Linked DNA regions of Homo sapiens: region 1 is linked to region 2. The links come from fine-mapping of genetic effects on gene expression. Tissue or cell type: blood mononuclear cells. Region 2 holds a variant in brackets; the other region holds the start of a gene. All regions are shown on one strand. Distances are from middle to middle.

Region 1 (8,000 bases), 34 kb before region 2:
CCTCCCAAAGTGCTGGGATTATAGGCGTGAGCCACCATGCCCGGCCTGGAAAGGCGTTTTCTTACCACCAATGGATCCCCTATAAAATATCACCAGGAAATTAATACATTACTATCCTCAGTTTTCCTTCCATGAGAAATCGCAGTAATGCATTGTAGGGGACATCAAAAGGGAACAGATGAGGTAGCTGAAGGAAACAGATTAGCTGATCAGGCAGCTAAGTCAGCGGCAAGAAAGCCTCAAGACATTAACACTTCAAACTCCTCTAGTGTGGGAAGGCTCCATCAGAGGAATTAAACCTCAGTACTCCCCTACAGAAGCAGAATGGGCCACTTCTTGAGGGTATACATTTCGGCCCTCAGGATGGTGACAGTCGGAGGATGGCAAGCTCCACTTGCCAGCCTCTAGCCAATGGAAAGTCCTTGAAGTCCTTCACCAAGCTTTTCACCTGGGAAAGGATAAGACATATCAATGTGCCCAGAGATTGTTTTCAGGAGATAACTTACTAAAAACAGTTAAGGAGGTTGTTAATGCTTGTGAAGTCTGTCTTAAAAATAATCCTTAACAGGCGACTCCTTCCTCCTCAACCCCAAAGAATAGGAGGTTATCCAGGAGAAGACTGCCAAATAGACTTCACCCACATGCCGAAGACAAAGGGCATCCAATACCTGCTGGTATGGTCAGACACCTTCACTAACTGGGTAGAGGCATTCCCATGCCGTACAGAAAAAGCCTCTGAGGTAATAAAAGTGTTTGTTAGTTAATGAAATAACTCCCCGCTTTGGTCTACCTAGGTATCTTCAAAATGACAATGGACCCTCATTTAAGGCAGCTGTCACACAAGGGGGTCTCAAAAGCACTAGGCATAGAATACCATCTCCACTGTGCTTGAAGACCCGCATCCTCAGGAAAGGTAGAGAAAACTAATGATATGATCAAGAGACACATCAGAAAATTAACCCAAGAAACTCACCTTCCTTGGGTCACTCTTCTTCTTATGGCCTTACTACGAATAAAAAGTACCCCTTCAAAACTTCGTCTTAGCCCTTTTGAGATGCTGTATGGATGACCTTTCTTTACCAATGATTTTCTATTAGATCAAGAAACCTCTGAGCTAGTCAAGCAGGTAACTTCTCTGGCTCACTTGCAACAGGAATTAGCACAATTAGCAAAGCCCCAACCCCAGGAAATTGGACCACCTCTATTTAACCCAGGAGATTTGGTACTGGTGAAGGCTCTCCCTTCTCTCTCTTCCTAAGCCCAAGCTGGGAAGGGCCTTACACCATTCTTTCAACTCCCTCAGCAATAAAAGTTACAGGAATCAACTTTTGGATACATCACACTCGAGTCAAAGCCTGGAAAGCTGAGGGAGCAACCCCTGACAGCCCAGAGAAATGACCTGAATATCAATGCGAAGAAGTAGGAGACCATAAGCTGAAAATCACAAAAGATAAGTAACGGAGTAAGAACCACTCACCTTAGTCTCGCCTCTACCTCACCAAATACTTTTTGCCGTTTCTACCTCTCCTTTTAAGCCAAGTATTACTATATACTATAGCACCCTCAGGGTGTAATATCGAACAGAATCTCAATTACTGTAGCATTTTGCTTAATTACTATCCTTACAGCAGGAATAACAGTTATTAACCAACAGTAAACATGAGTGTTTTACTATCACTAGGTCTGTTAGGATTTTTTATGGGACTTAGTAATACGTCACACCCTTTAGCTCCTACAATATCCGCCATGGCCCATTTCTACAACAAGACTAATTGTTGGGTCTGTCCTAAATGGTTTGCTCAGTTCAACAGCACTGAGGAACCTTACAATGACCCAGAACTCACAGTCTTAGGATTCCCTTTGTTGGCTTTACTTTTAACCCTTAAACACATATCAGGCATAAATGGAACATGGTATGGGAGCACTTTCTTTTTTTTTTTTTTCCTCGAGACGGAGTCTCGCTCTGTCACCCAGGCTGGAGTGCAGTGGCGCAATCCCGGCTCACTGCAACCTCCACCTTCCGTGTTCAAGCAGTTCTCCTGCCTCAGCCTCCTGGGTAGCTGGGATTACAGGCATGCGCTACCACACCCAGCTAGTTTTTTTTTTTTTTTTTGTATTTTTTATTAGAGACGGGGTTTCACCATGATGGGCCCGGCTGGTCTCAAATTCCTGACCTCAGGTGATCCGCCCACCTCGGCCTCCCAAAGTGCTGGGATTACAGGCATGAGCCACCACGCCCAGCCATGAATATTGTGGTGGCAGTCGCTGTGGCGGGCACCTGTAGCCCCAGCTACTGGGGAGGCTGAGGCAGGAGAATCGCTTGAACCCAGGAGGCGGAGGTTGTAGTGACCTGAAATCGCACCACTGCACTCAAGCCTGGGCAACAGATCGAGACTCCGTCTCAAAAAAAAAAAAAAAAACCCAAACCGAAAAACCATATTTATTCATTCAACAAACATTTATTTGCACATTGTGTACCAGGCTGTCATACGCATTAGGGATATAGCTTTAAACAAAACAGACAAGATGGAATATCCTGGAACACACATTCTAGTAACAATAAACAAACAAACAAATTCGTAAATAGCATGTTAGATTGTAAAATGTACTCTGGAGAAAAAGCTATATGGAGAAAAAGAAGTGTCTGTGGGGTTAATTTTAATTATGGCAGCCATGGAGGGCCTCACTGACAGGGTGACCGACGCCAAAGCGCCTGAAGGAGGTGAATGGGAGCCATACAAATAACTGGAGGAAGAGGTCCCTCAACCAAGGCAAGTGAAAAGGCCATGGGGCAGGAGTATGTCAGCAGTGTTCAGGGAATAGCAAACTGTCTACTGTGGCTTCAGAGGAATAAGAAGATGGCGTAGGATGGGGTAGGAGAGGATCTTGTAAATCATTATAAAAGCTCTGGCTTTTCCGCCAGGTGCGGTGGCTCAAGCCTGTAATCCCAGCACTTTGGGAGGCGGAGGCGGGCGGATCCACGAGGTCAGGAGGTCGAGACCATCCTGGCTAACACGGTGAAACCCGGTCTCTACTAAAAACACAAAAAATTAGCCGGGCGTGATGGCGGACACCTGTAGCCCCAGCAACTCGGGAGGCGGAGGCAGGAGAATGGGGTGAACCCGGGAGGCGGAGCTTGCAGTGAGCCGAGATCGCGCCACTGCACTCTAGACTGGGCGACAGAGCGAGACTCCGTCTCAAAAAAAAAAAAAAAAAAAAAAGCTTTGGCTTTTCGTCAGATGTGAAGTTATTGGAGATTATGTGTAAAATGTCATAAGAAAGAGTGACAGGCTTGCCCAGAAGAGTGTCTGGGGAATAAACTTGCATGGCAAAATGTTAGTTTTGGCCAGGCGCAGTGGCTCACGCCAGTAATCTCAGCACTTCGGGAGGCCAAGGCGGGAAGAGTTCGAACTCCTTGAGCTCAGGAGTTTGAGACCAGTCTGAGCAACATAGTGAGACCACCTCCCCCGACCGCCATCTCTACAAAAAATAAAAGAACAAAATTAGCCGGGCGTGGTGGCGCGCGCCTGTGGTCACTTGGGAGGCTGAGACAGGAAAATCGCTGGAGCCCGGGAGGTGGAGGTTGCAGTGAGCCGACATCGCGCCACTGCACTCCAGCCTGGGCAACAGAGCGAGACCCTGTCTCAAAACAGAAAACAAAACAAAATGTTAGTTCTTAGAATCGGAAACCCCTAGTAGAGGCCCAAAGTTGTTTTGCGAAAAGGAGACTGACGAGGAAACCCGGAGGAGTCCGCCCAAATAGGTGGAGAGAAGATCCCGCCGCGGGCGCCCCCTGGTGGATAAAAGGGCCGCGCGGAGGGCCGCTCTGCTCTTGAGACGGACACAAACGGGGCACAAAACACTATACTGAGACCGTTCTGAGGGACAGGCTTCCACCAAAATCGCCAAGGGCGGACCAGGATTTTCAAAACGGCCGCGCCGGGGGCGGGACCAACCCGATCCGTAAGTCAGCTGGGCAGCCCGGCGCCCGCACGCCGACCGGAAGGAACTGCTCGGAACCGGGGGCGGCGCCGGCGAGATGACGCAAAAGGGGTCGCGCCGAGGGTGACGCGTGGCGTAGACGACGCCGTCGGCCTGCGCCTGTCACCCCCCTCCTCCCGGGGTTTGTAGCGGAGGAGGAGCGGGCGCCATGGCGGTTCTACTGGAGACCACTTTAGGCGACGTCGTCATCGACTTGTACACCGAAGAACGGCCGCGTGGTGAGGCTTGAGCCCCACTCACCTGTCGCCGGGGCCCCCGAGCTTGTCTCCCTACTTTCCCTTCTCTGCGCAGTCCAGGGCAGAGATTGGCTAGAGCTCGAGCTTCTGGGCTGCTGGTGCCCGCGACTGGGCTATTTTATTAACCGGCCTTGGCTAGAAAAGTTTTTGTGACGGGAATTCGTTTGAGCCTTGGCAGCCCTTCTCCCGTATTTTGTGTTGGCCAGTCCGGTGGACGGTGCTTGCGGTCATTAATTGCCTTTGGGAGTGTGTGTGTGGGGCGTGTGTGTGTGTGATTCGAGCTGCACATACAATACCCATAGCTTTTGTGCCTTTATTGTGTTTACTCGTGAGAGGAACATAGGAACTATTGCTTGGTGTGTAATCGGTTAAATCTTGATGAAGGCAGTTAGGGTGTGCTTGGCGCAGCGAGTGTGGGCATACCGCTTAGGTGGAGGAGGAAGAGGTTGTCTGGAGTGTGGACTGAGCCTTCGAGGCACTGGGCTAAGTCCTGGGCTTGGCTTCTTGCCCCCGAGGGTCTGATTTTTCCACTGGGGGAAGTAGACACAGGAACCCATTTTAGTTTTCTATGTGTTATGGTAGAAGAATGTGTAAGTTGCCACGGAAACCAGAAGAGGGCGGCTTCTTTGGTGGGGGGTGGGAAGAAGCAAAGCTAGCGAATACTATATAGAACACTTGAACTAGTTCTTTCAAAGATGAATGGGAATGAGGGTTTTCTTAGCTTGGACTTTCTTTGTTTGGAATTTTCTGGAAACGGCAAGTAGTTTGGTGTGGCTGGAAGGACTGGTGTGAGTCGTGGAATGGTAGACTCGAGTGTGGTCAGATACGCCTAGGTCAGTCGTGAATAGTCTTGTGTGCCCTACTGATGATCAGAGTCCTTGAAGACTTTAAAAGCAGGATTGAGGCATGGCATACTTGTTTTGAGAAGATAATAGGCAGCGGTGTGGAGAATGTATCAGAGTCAGGAAGAAACTGAGACCAGGAGAGATTAGTTACAAACAGGGTCCTACCCACATGGAATGCAGAGCCTATCAAAGAAGGTGAAATAAGTTGCAATATTGTACAATAACTACCTCCTGCCGTGCTCCGCTTTCCCTCGCACGCAGCTATTCCTCCCTCCTCTCCACCTGGCGAAAACACTACAAACTCTCCCGTACCATTGTTACCATTCTTTTGCTGTTTCTTCTAAACAATATTCTTCTCCACTATTGTCCTTCTGGCAAACTTACTACTTATTATCTAAATCTCAGATCAAGCATCATCTCTTCTTTGAAGCTCTCCCTCCTTTCTAAGCAGAGTTACCTGAGGGTTCCTCTGCTGTGTCTTAGGTCTTTTATAAACCACATGACACATTTTATTTTAACATTTACCTATTATCCTGGTGTTGTTTACAAGCGTGCCCTCGCTCAAGAATGTAAACTCCAATGAGAGCAGGAACTATACCATAATTATCATCTCTATATCCTGAGTACCCAGTACAATGTCTGCTACTTTTAGGGCACACACTAGAGGTTCATTATGATGACTAATGGATATAAATGTGTTGTATTAGTTAGGACCCTTTGTTCAAGTGATAGAAACCCAACTCAAACTGGCATAAACAAAATAATTGGTTGCCTCATAATACTGGGGTAAGCTTGGATCGAGTGGCTGGATCGAGTGTTTCAAAGAATATCATAGGGAATTTTGTTTTTTATCTCTTGATTTTGCTTTTCTTTGAGTTCCTTTGACGCTCTGCCCATGTAGAGTAGCACCTGGCAAAATAAATGGGCCTCTTTTCCCAGAGTTATGAGGAAATAAAGGGGTGTAGAGCTACCCCACCCAATTAACAAGCAGTGGGTCTGCAAAGATAAGCCCATAACAATAAGTCCACCCCCTGTACATATTTGTAAGCATATGACTGGAGATGTGCTTACATGTGTACCTGCTATATTTATACTCACTTATCAATCTATGATCAACATATCCAGACTTACCTACCTTCCATTCTTTCTTCCTTTTCTTTTTTAACTTTTTATTATAGAAAATTTAAAACACAGATGTAGAGAGAATCATGTAAATGAACTCTCATGTCCACATGACCAGCTTTGTTTAACAGCTGTGAACACATAGCCAATCTTGCTTCATTTATAATACCCCCACCTCCAGTGCATCTATTTAATCTGTAATTACTTCAGTATGTATTTCTAAAATATAACGTCTCTTTAAAAAAAACAAGAAAAAATGGAACTATGAGCTTAAGTACCACATAAGTGACAGGTTAAAAAAGAAAAAAAACTTGACAGGGAAAAGGGAAAAATACTAAAGGAAAGAGAAAAAGTTGTAAAAAAGAATAAAAAAACAGAACCACAGATCTTATCACACTTTGAAAAAACTAGCAATAATTTTTAGTATCATTTAAACTTTCTTATTATCTCATAAACTTCTAAAAAATATGGTGATTTAAATTAGGACCCAAAGTCCATATATTGGTTAAAATGTCTCATATATGTTTTAATCTATTGGTTCTCCCCCTTTTTTCCTTGAAAAAATTTTGAGAAACAACCTGGGTGCTTTGTCTTGTAGAATTTCTCTTGTTTGGATTCGACTGATTATTTACTGGGTGCGTTAACATATTTTTGTGTCCCCTGTTTCCTATAAATTGTTCTTTAGCTTCAGAGCCTTGATTAGGTTCCAGTTTAATGTTTTTGGCAAGAATATTTCATATAAGATAGTGTGTACTTTCAGCTGCATCACATTCAGGAGGCACTTGATGTCTGGTTGGCTCTGTGATGTTAAAATTGGTCAGTGGGTTAAGGCCTTGTTGCGCTTATAAATTGTTCCCATCGGATTTTGATGAAAGACCTAAAGATTTTGGCAGCCATTGATGATCATTGCCTAAATTCATTATTTTTGTTTCTAGTAAAAGGACCACCCCTATCTGTTAAACATGAAGCCCAGAAATATATTCAAGAAAAACAACTGCAAGACTGATATTCAGCACTCTTCAACAGCTCAGCCCCATCTTATCTCTCCAGTCTTTTCATGCTCTATTACTGTGTAATACCAGACTATTACAGAACTTTGGTGTTTTGGACCTCCCCTAAAACATTTAAATTTCCACTTCCAGGCCTTTTCATAGTCTTCCAGACCTAAAATGCTCACCCTTCACTCTCTGCTAGTCCAGTTCTTTTAATGCTTGCCTTAACCTTCCCTGAGGTTTTCTAATTTCCCTAGCCAGAAACAATCTTTTGAACTCTTGTGGAATTTTTAAAACTACTTTTTTTACCATTTTAAATAAGTGGCACACATGTTATTAATTAGATATGCCCAGTATGTAACTACTTGTGTTCAGATGTAAGGACCCTAATTTAATGTAAGCTTTTTGAGGGCAGGGATTGCCTCATATATCTTACTGTCTGTTTGGTTTCTAACTTAGTGCCTTAAGAGCTTGTTAATGTGTCTTTCCACGACTAGACTGTGAACTTTTTGGGAGCAGGGACCACAGTTTAATGGCATTTGTGATGGCAGTGTCAGGCATCTAGAAGGTACTCAGTAAATGTTTATTGGATAAGCAGATTAACTTGTATGAGAAAGGTTGTTCATAAGTGTATGGATTTTTATAAAGGGCTGTTTAACTATTATTTAAAAAATGACCCCGGGTGTTTGACTTTTTCCTAATTGATATAATCCGTATCCATTTTTATATATTCTGCTAGATCCTTTTCTACTACAATATGCTCTTTAAGTGTTCTTTTTTCTCGTAATAAAATCAATCCATCA
Region 2 (8,367 bases):
TATTATGACATTTAAATTGGTTCACTAATTTTTCCCATTATAAATATATCACTCCACACATTGCAAGAGTTATTTCTGTTGTGATTCTTTCTGGTAAATGGTGTCTTTGTTTCCTAGTTTCTATTGGTATTTCAGGGATTTTTTTTTCTACATATGTAGACATTTCTTTTCCAAGTACTCATCAAGAAAGATGAATATCAGGTTGACCTGGTCTATATTCATGTTTTAAGATGTGTTGATTGTCTGCAATGTATAAAGCATTGTGAGGTGTTAGAACTGGATAAAGTCTGAAGAAAGCTGATAAAATCAGCATAAGGAGAGGCTTTCACATGCAGACAGACCAAATAAGAAGCTGAGATTTGGTCAGAAAAGATCAACATTCAAGGGCATATGATTGAAAGCTCAAAATCATAAAAGTTATGAATGGAATACATTTGATATTTATTTACCAAATCTTTGAAATTAAATTTAGGCTTATTACTAATAACTATAGCTGGAAGAAGGGGAATTTTAAGTTTTCTTTAATTTTAATTAATTGAAACAACCACACATATACTTATATGGAATAGTGTAGCTTCTAGCCTTTTGAAGTTGATGCAAAAGAGAGAAATGCTGTTAGGGGATAGTCTGATGTGCAGATAAATTGTCTTAAGTCAGTTAAGAAGGCATGGTGGCATCTACTTTATGGGCCTTAAGAGAAAGAGAAATTAGTGAAAGTATAGATTATTAATAAGAAGAATCAAAAATAGAAGTAGGAGAAGGAAATAACTTGGCCCAACTAGACCTCAGGGAAGAAATTGGAGAAAAGATGGCAGTGAGCTCACAAATTTGTGTTTTATTCAAAGGGAGAGGGATTTGATGTCTTCTGAAAGTGTTGATTTTAGTGATAAGTACAAGATAGTGGGTAAGTGAGGAAGCAGGAGATACAACAAGTGTCTTGAGGGTATGACAAGTAATCAACAGATACTTAGTAAGCATCTGTCACATACTCAGTTTAGCAATGAAAGATATTCAGTTCCTGCCCACATAGAGCTTACATTTTGCTGTTGGAGTGGGGAAAAAAAACCAGACATTAAATAATTACCATTCTAAATACGTCTAAATTATTGCAAATAAATATTGCAAAGAGATATGGGACTCATAATAGGGGGCGAGAGGTTAGAGAATACCCTCAACACTGAAAAAAGTGGCATTAAAGCTGTGACACTAATATGGGAGATAGGAGGGCTGAGGTGGAGTGCTGTCTTCTTTCGTATGATCCATCATTTAAGAAATAGGCTGGGTGCAGTGGCTCATGGGAGTGCTGTCTTCTTTCGTATGATCCATCATTTAAGAAATAGGCTGGGTGCAGTGGCTCATGCCTGTAATCCCAGCAGTGTGGGAGGCCGAGGTGGGAGGATTGCTGGAGCCCAGAAGTTTGAGAGCAGCCAGGGCAATATAGCGAGACCCGGTCTCCATTTTTTTTTTCTTAAAAAAAAAAAAAAAATTGGCTGGGTGCAGTGGCTCATGCCTATAATCCCAGCACTCTGGGAGGCCGAGGCGGGCAGATCACCCGAGGTCGGGAGTTCAAGACCAGCCTGGCCAACATGCAGAAACTCCGTCTCTACTAAAAATACAAAAAATTAGCCAGGCGTGGTGGCGGATGCCTGTAATCCCAGCTACTCGGGAGGCTGAGGCAGGAGAATTGCTTGAACCCAGGAGGCAGAGGTTGTGGTGAGCCAAGATCGCGCCATTGTACTCCAGCCTGGGCAACAAGAGTGAAACTCCGTCTCAAAAAAAAAATTAAAAAAAATACAGTTTTTGTCTTAACCCAATACAGTCACAGTACAAACATTCACACACACACACACACACACACACTTGAACCAAAAGATTAATAAAATAAAATTTTTTTAGGCATATACTGTATTTCTGTTTTTTTTTTTAAATGCTGTTGTGGCCCACTAAATAGATTTTATACCCCATTGATGGATTATAGTCATCAGTTTGAAAAACATTGCTCTGAGCCAGGCGCAGTGGCTCATGCCTGTAATCCCAGCACTTTGGGAGACTGAGGCAGGTGGATCATTTGAGGTCAGGAGTTTGAGACCAGCCTGGCCAACGTGGCGAAACCCTGTCTCGACTAAAAATACGAAAATTAGCTGGGTGTGGTGGTGTGCACTTGTAATCACAGCTACTTGGGAGGCTGAGGCAGGAGAATTGCTTGAACCCTGGATGGGGTGGTTGCAGGGAGCCAAGATCAGGCCACTGCACTCCAGCCTGGGCAACAGAGCAAGACTGAGTGCTCTGAAGAATTTGGACAGAGGGAGCAGCATGTGCAGAGCACACATTAGGATGAAATCATAGGTGGGAGCTATGGAATGTGTATCTGGAAAAGGCAAGATCCAGAAGATGCCCCGGAAACAGAGTAGCATAGTGAAAAGAGGGAAGTTGGAGATAATGGAGTCATAACCGAATGGTACGAGCTGACTAACCCTCTTTAGCCATCTCATGGGAAGCTAGGAGGAACAATGTCTTTCATTTGATCTTATGTAGAAGTGAGACATTCCTGTGGAAAGTGTTGAGTTGTGGCTTTGTGAAGCAGACACGAGCCTCTAGTCCTGAGGGAAGTGTGTCTGCGTTTACTGTGGTCCCACATGTAATTAGCATAGCTCTGCCTGTTGGGCTTCCTCATAACCTTTCTCTGGAAAACCACCATTCCAGCCCATGTCAGTCTTCCTCAAAATCCACCTTTGAGGTTGAGATTATTTTCAGCAGAAATCGTAACTCTTTTATATTTTCTCTTATTCTATTATAGTATATTTAAGAAAATACTTATCTCTGAATTAAAACATTAAAACATTTTTAACACATTTAGATGAAATTTAAAAAGATTCACTCGTAGCTTCATCACCTAGACACATGATACTTTTTATTTCTCCTTGTTTCTTTCAAACCTTTCTCTTATGTAAAGTTATAATCGTTGTATGGTATATGTTGTTTTTGCTTTAAGCTTTTTTCATGTTAATTTTCATAAACACCTTTCTAGGGTTTTTTCTGTAGCATTTATCGTTGTTGATAACTTCATTTATAATATTGTATCTTGTTGAAGTACTATAATGCATTTAAGTATGTCTTTATTACTAGATATTTTGTTGTTCCTACTTTGCTACTAAAAGTAATACTATTATGCATATTTTTTATATGTATATATATATATATATATATATATATTTTTTTTTTTTTTTTTTTTTTTTTTTTGAGACTGAGTCCCCGCTCTGTCACCCAGGCTGGAGTGCAGTAGTGCAACCTCGGCTCACAAAAGTCTCTACCTCCTGGGTTCAAATGATTTTCCTGCCTCAGCCTCCCGAGTAGCTGGGGTTATAGGTTGCGCCACCATGCCCGGCTAATTTTTGTATTTTTAGTAGAGATGGGGTTTCACCATATTGGCCAGGCTGGTCTCGAACTCCTGGCCTCGAGTGAGTCGCCCGCCTTGGCTTCCCAAAGTGCTGGGATTACAGGTGTGAGCCACCACGCCTGGCTTTTATGTATATTTTTGTTCATTTAACTGTATTCATAAATTCTTATTAGAATTTAAACATGATGGGCAGGTGTGGTGGCTCACACCTGTAATCCCAGCACTTTGGGAGGCCGAGGCGGGTGGATCACGAGGTCAGGTGTTTGAGACCAGCCTGGCCAACATGGGGAAGCCCCGTTTCTACTAAAGACACAAAAAATTAGTCAGGCGTGGTGGCATGTGCCTGTAGTCCCAGCTACTCGGGAGGCTGAGGCAGGAGAATTGCTTGAACCTGAGAGGCGGAGGTTGCAGTGAGCTGAGATCGCGCCACTGCACTCCAGCTCGGGCAACAGGGCAAGACTCCGTCTCAAAAAAAATAATAAGAAGAATTTAAACATGATAACTCGATATGCATTGCTGAATTTCCTCTTGATTGAACTAAAAGAAGAGACATACAAATGTACCTGTTATCTTATATAGCTTTTCTGGGCATTGGAATTTATAATAATTTTTTCTAGTTAAAGATGTCCCTCATTTTCTAAATTTAAATTTTTTAAATTATTGACAAATACGTTTATTTTTTCCTCCTAATTTTTTTGCCTACTAGTCTTTATTTTAAGATTGTTTAGGATTAGGATTCTTTCCATTTCTCCTGACTATATAATGAAAGAAAATGTTAGTTTTGTTTTAGAAATGTACTATATTCTTTTGAGATGCTTTTTGCTTTAGTTACTTTTAGCCTTATGACCTCCTTTGTTTACCAGATCTTAAGTTTTGATGTCTTACCAGTATTATTTATCACATTTATCCTTAACTAACTACTGCAGTACAAAATACGATCTTATATTAGATGAGCAGGCCGAAGACTCAAAATCAAGTCACTCACACACAAGTAAAAAACACAAGAAGAAAACCCATCACTGTTCTGAAGAGAAAGAAGATGAGGACTACATGCCAATCAAAAATACTAATCAGGTACCTCTAATGTCCAGACTTAGATGTGGAGAAATAAATATTTTATCCCTCTGTAAATGATGTCTTAGTGATATAATTTAGGAGGTAAGGGATAGTTCTAAGCAGAGATGGGTTTGTTCCTAAGAAGCAGAATGGTTGCACTGGGGTATGGGATTTTAATTTTCAAAAATATTTATCACAAATGATAAAAGATCATTTTTGACATAACTTAATGTATCAAATACTTCCACATTGTGAAGCAAGAGTGATTTCCGTACCTGTGGATACTCCTTTATTCCCATCAGAAACAAGTGTGGTTGTGCTGAAAAAGATTTTGTCATTTATCTGCTTAATTTATCACCAAGTGTTATGTATAGCACTTAAGGGCTCTTGAGATTTTACATCCTATAAAACATTTATATCCTGCTGTATTGTATATAAGAAAAACAGCACTGGTAATTAACTTTAGCATGCTAAAAGCTCTCCTGAACAGCACATTTAAAAAAAATAATAAAAATTCCCCAAAGAAAATTTATTGTGAAGAAAAGTGATTATTTCCA[G/A]CCTGTGCTTTGGTTCTTAGTTAAATAAAAAGCAATTTACAGGCTGGGTACGGTGGCTCACGCCTGTAATCCTAGCACTTTGGGAGGCCGAGGCAGGTAGATCGCTTGAGCTTAAGAGTTGGAGACCAGCCTGGGCAACATGGTGAAACCCCCATCTCGACAAAAAATACACACACACACACCTTGACAAAAAGTACACACACACACACACACACACAATTGGCCAGGCATGGTGGTGTGCACCTATGGTCTCAGCTACTTGGGAGCTTGAGAGGATCGCTTGAGCCCAGGAGGTAGAGGCTGCAGTGAGCCCAGATCATGCCACTGCCCTCCAGCCTGGATGACAGAGCCAGACCACGTCTCCAAAAAAAATTTTTTTTTTTTTTTTACATCAGAGCTCCTTGCTTTTGTTTTACCACATAGAAACATTTATGCTGGGCCCTGGTGGATGAGAAGGATTTCAGTGGGCTGAGGTGAGAAGGGAGGGAATTTAAGATGGTGAGAATGTTAACCAAAGATGCAGAAATAGAGAAATGTAGTATGATAGGCAGAGTCAAGGATTTGCTGTCAGGAGAGCTAGGTTTACATACTGCTGGCCATCAAAGTGACCTTGACAAGTTGTTTAACTTTCTGAGCCACAGTTTCATCCTCTGTGAAAAGTGAGAAATACTTCACAGGCATTTTGTTAAGATTCAGTGAAAAAAATGCGTGTGCAAACATTTTCTACACTGGTTATTATTGTTACTACTTTTTTTTTTTAACTGTTAAAGCAAATTACTAGTTTTAGAGTTACTTGGAATAGTTTCTCTCTGTGGTTATGACATTAACTAGATTCATATTTCAGTTAAAGTGTTTCTTTTCTTTCTTTTTTTTGAGACGGAGTTTTGCTCTTGTTGCCCAGGCTGGAGTGCAATGGTGCAATCTCGGCTCACTGCAACCTCCGCCTCCTGGGTTCAAGCGATTCTCCTGCCTCAGCCTCCCGAGTAGGTGGGATTACAGGCACCTGCCATCATGCCTGGCTGATTTTTGTATTTTTACTAGAGATGGAGTTTCACCAAGTTGGCCAGGCTGGTCTCGAACTCCTGACCTCGTGATCTGCCTGCCTCAGCCTCCCAAAGTGCTGGGATTATAGGCGTGAGCCACCGCGCCCGGCCCTGTTTCATTTTTATTTATTTATTTTTAATGTTTTAAGGGTTGCTTTAACAATTTTTTGTTTTGTAGTTTTAAAAACTGTTTCCAAAGTGAAATCTACAAAATGGTACATTTAGAGAACCTAGCTTCCATTCTTGTTCCCTCCCCTTTTCCTTCTTCCCTCTGTGGGTAACTATTTTATGTGTTTTATGGGTTATTGATTTAAAAAAATTTAGCAAGTAAATATTTGATATATGTAGTTAGCTCTTTGCTATAATCCAGCAGAGATAGAATTTCTTCTTTCTATAGCCCTTTAGCTGTTTAAAGATTGCCATCATTCATGCCTCATCCCGTTTTCAGGCCATACTTTTGTTGGTTCCTGCAAATATTTCTCACATGAATCGGTGGTAATAAAAGTAGTAGTAGGCCAGGTGCAGTGGCTCATGCTTGTAATCCCAGCATGTTGGGAAGCTGAGGCAGGAGAATCGCTTGATCCCAGAGTTCAAGACCAGCCTGGGCAACATAGGAGGCCCTGTCTCTATAAAAATTTTAAATAAAAGAAAAAAGTAGTAGTAGTTAATATTTTTTGGTCCTTACAATGTAAGGTGGGTTCTTTTATCCCCCTTTCACACAACAAAGTGAGAACAAAAATTGTTACTTGCCCATAGTTTTACACAGCTAGTAAGTAGTGGAACCACAGTTTAGTTTCATAGTTGAAACTAACTACTCTTAACTTGAAACATACTCCTAACTACTTTTGCTCGTCTTCTTACCTGGGGTATATTCTCATCAGTTTTCTTTCCTAAACTCTAATGTTATTTTAATAAAATTTGTCCCATAGTATAATATTCCAATGTGATCTAATAGGAACACATCTCCTCCTTCTTAAATGTCTGTACTCTATTACTTTAGTCTGAGGTCGCATCAGTCTTCTTTACTGGTGGCTGTATCACATTCCTGTGAATGTTTAGCATGTTTTCCACTAAAAACTCTGAATTCTTTCCCCCTCCATGTGCTGCTTTTAGCTCCAGCTTTTCATCCTGCACTTGTACATGGAACCGTCCATGAATTTAAGCCTGAGATAAATAAACATTGGTGTGTTTGAGATAATCAGAGGTCTAAAAAATTTCAGACTGGTTGTGTTTTTTTTGTGTGAGTCTTTCTGATTCTGCTGTTTGATTACTTGAAACCTTACAGTAGCAAATATCCTTCTCATTTTGCATGGAGTAAAAGCATCAAGATTTTGGGGGAATGCTATTAGTATTTTTAAAAAGATTTTAAGGCAATTTTAAGTTGAAATTTTAAGGCAATATTAACTATAAAATTATTAAATTCTGAATAATGATCTCCTAACTTCTCCCCTTAAAGTATATTAAATTTTAAAAAGTTTTGTACTTTGATTTAATGATATAGCTACATTAATTTTCTCTTCTTCCTAATAAAACTCAGCATCAGTATTTAAGATTTTAATGGCCCCCCGATTTTTTATTATTTTGTTTTTTATTTTTTAAAATTCATTAAAGAGAATTTTCAGTACTAGACAAATTTCAGCTATAGTTCATATTTTCCTGTTTGTCGGTGTTTTGCTTAGTGAGTCTGGTTTCCCAAGAGTATTTTAACTTATTTCTTCAAATTCTTTGTTTTTTATTGAGTAACTAGCCTTACTAATCAATTCGAAAACGTTTGTTTAATTTTCCACCTCATGTCTTAATTCCAGAGATGGTTTTTGTGTTGTTGAGGTTTGGGTTTTACTGGGGTTACAGGAAATGCGTATTCAGCTGGGGGTTGCCTTGCTGAGAAGTATTCATGCTGGTTGTCAGTTTTCCACTGGGGTTTTCATAGTGTTTGTATTCTTGACTGTACTTTTTCTGTCATTTTAGTGATTTAATGTTATCTTGGTGACTAAGATTTAACCAGATCTTTGATTTAGTCCCAGAGACTTGAGCAAGGATAGCTTTTAATTAGATTAGACTTTTTTTGATTGCTTATTTCAAGTCATTTGCTAGGTTAATTGCTTTAAATTGGCCATTTTGTGTTCTTCGTTTTTTCTTTTCTTTTTTTGCCACATGGTAGTTTAATCATCTTGTCTTATGTTTTAAATGTATAAATAATATAACTTTTAAAAATTCATACTGGAAAGGACCTAGACCTTATCTAATTCATTTATCTCACTTTAGATATGAAGATACTGATCCCACAGGCCCTTAGGCCTTTATAGTGGGAGAG

Evidence for each region. PIP is the estimated chance that this variant, and not a neighbour inherited with it, causes the effect.
Region 1: PPIL4 starts here. The variant in region 2 is fine-mapped to the expression of PPIL4 in blood mononuclear cells (TOPMed, PIP 0.98).

The regions. Positions count from the first base shown.
Region 1 is chr6:149,542,156-149,550,155 of GRCh38, reverse strand. PPIL4 (peptidylprolyl isomerase like 4) reads left to right here and starts at 4,113. Exons shown (of 13, transcript NM_139126.4): 1 at 4,113-4,220. The coding sequence starts at 4,151. RefSeq lists enhancers at 2,544-3,220, 3,924-4,223.
Region 2 is chr6:149,508,259-149,516,625 of GRCh38, reverse strand. PPIL4 (peptidylprolyl isomerase like 4) reads left to right here. Exons shown (of 13, transcript NM_139126.4): 12 at 4,324-4,471. Among named protein-coding and RNA genes, the nearest start is that of ZC3H12D, 27 kb to the right of the region's middle. The variant G/A (reference allele first, on the strand shown) is at 5,011.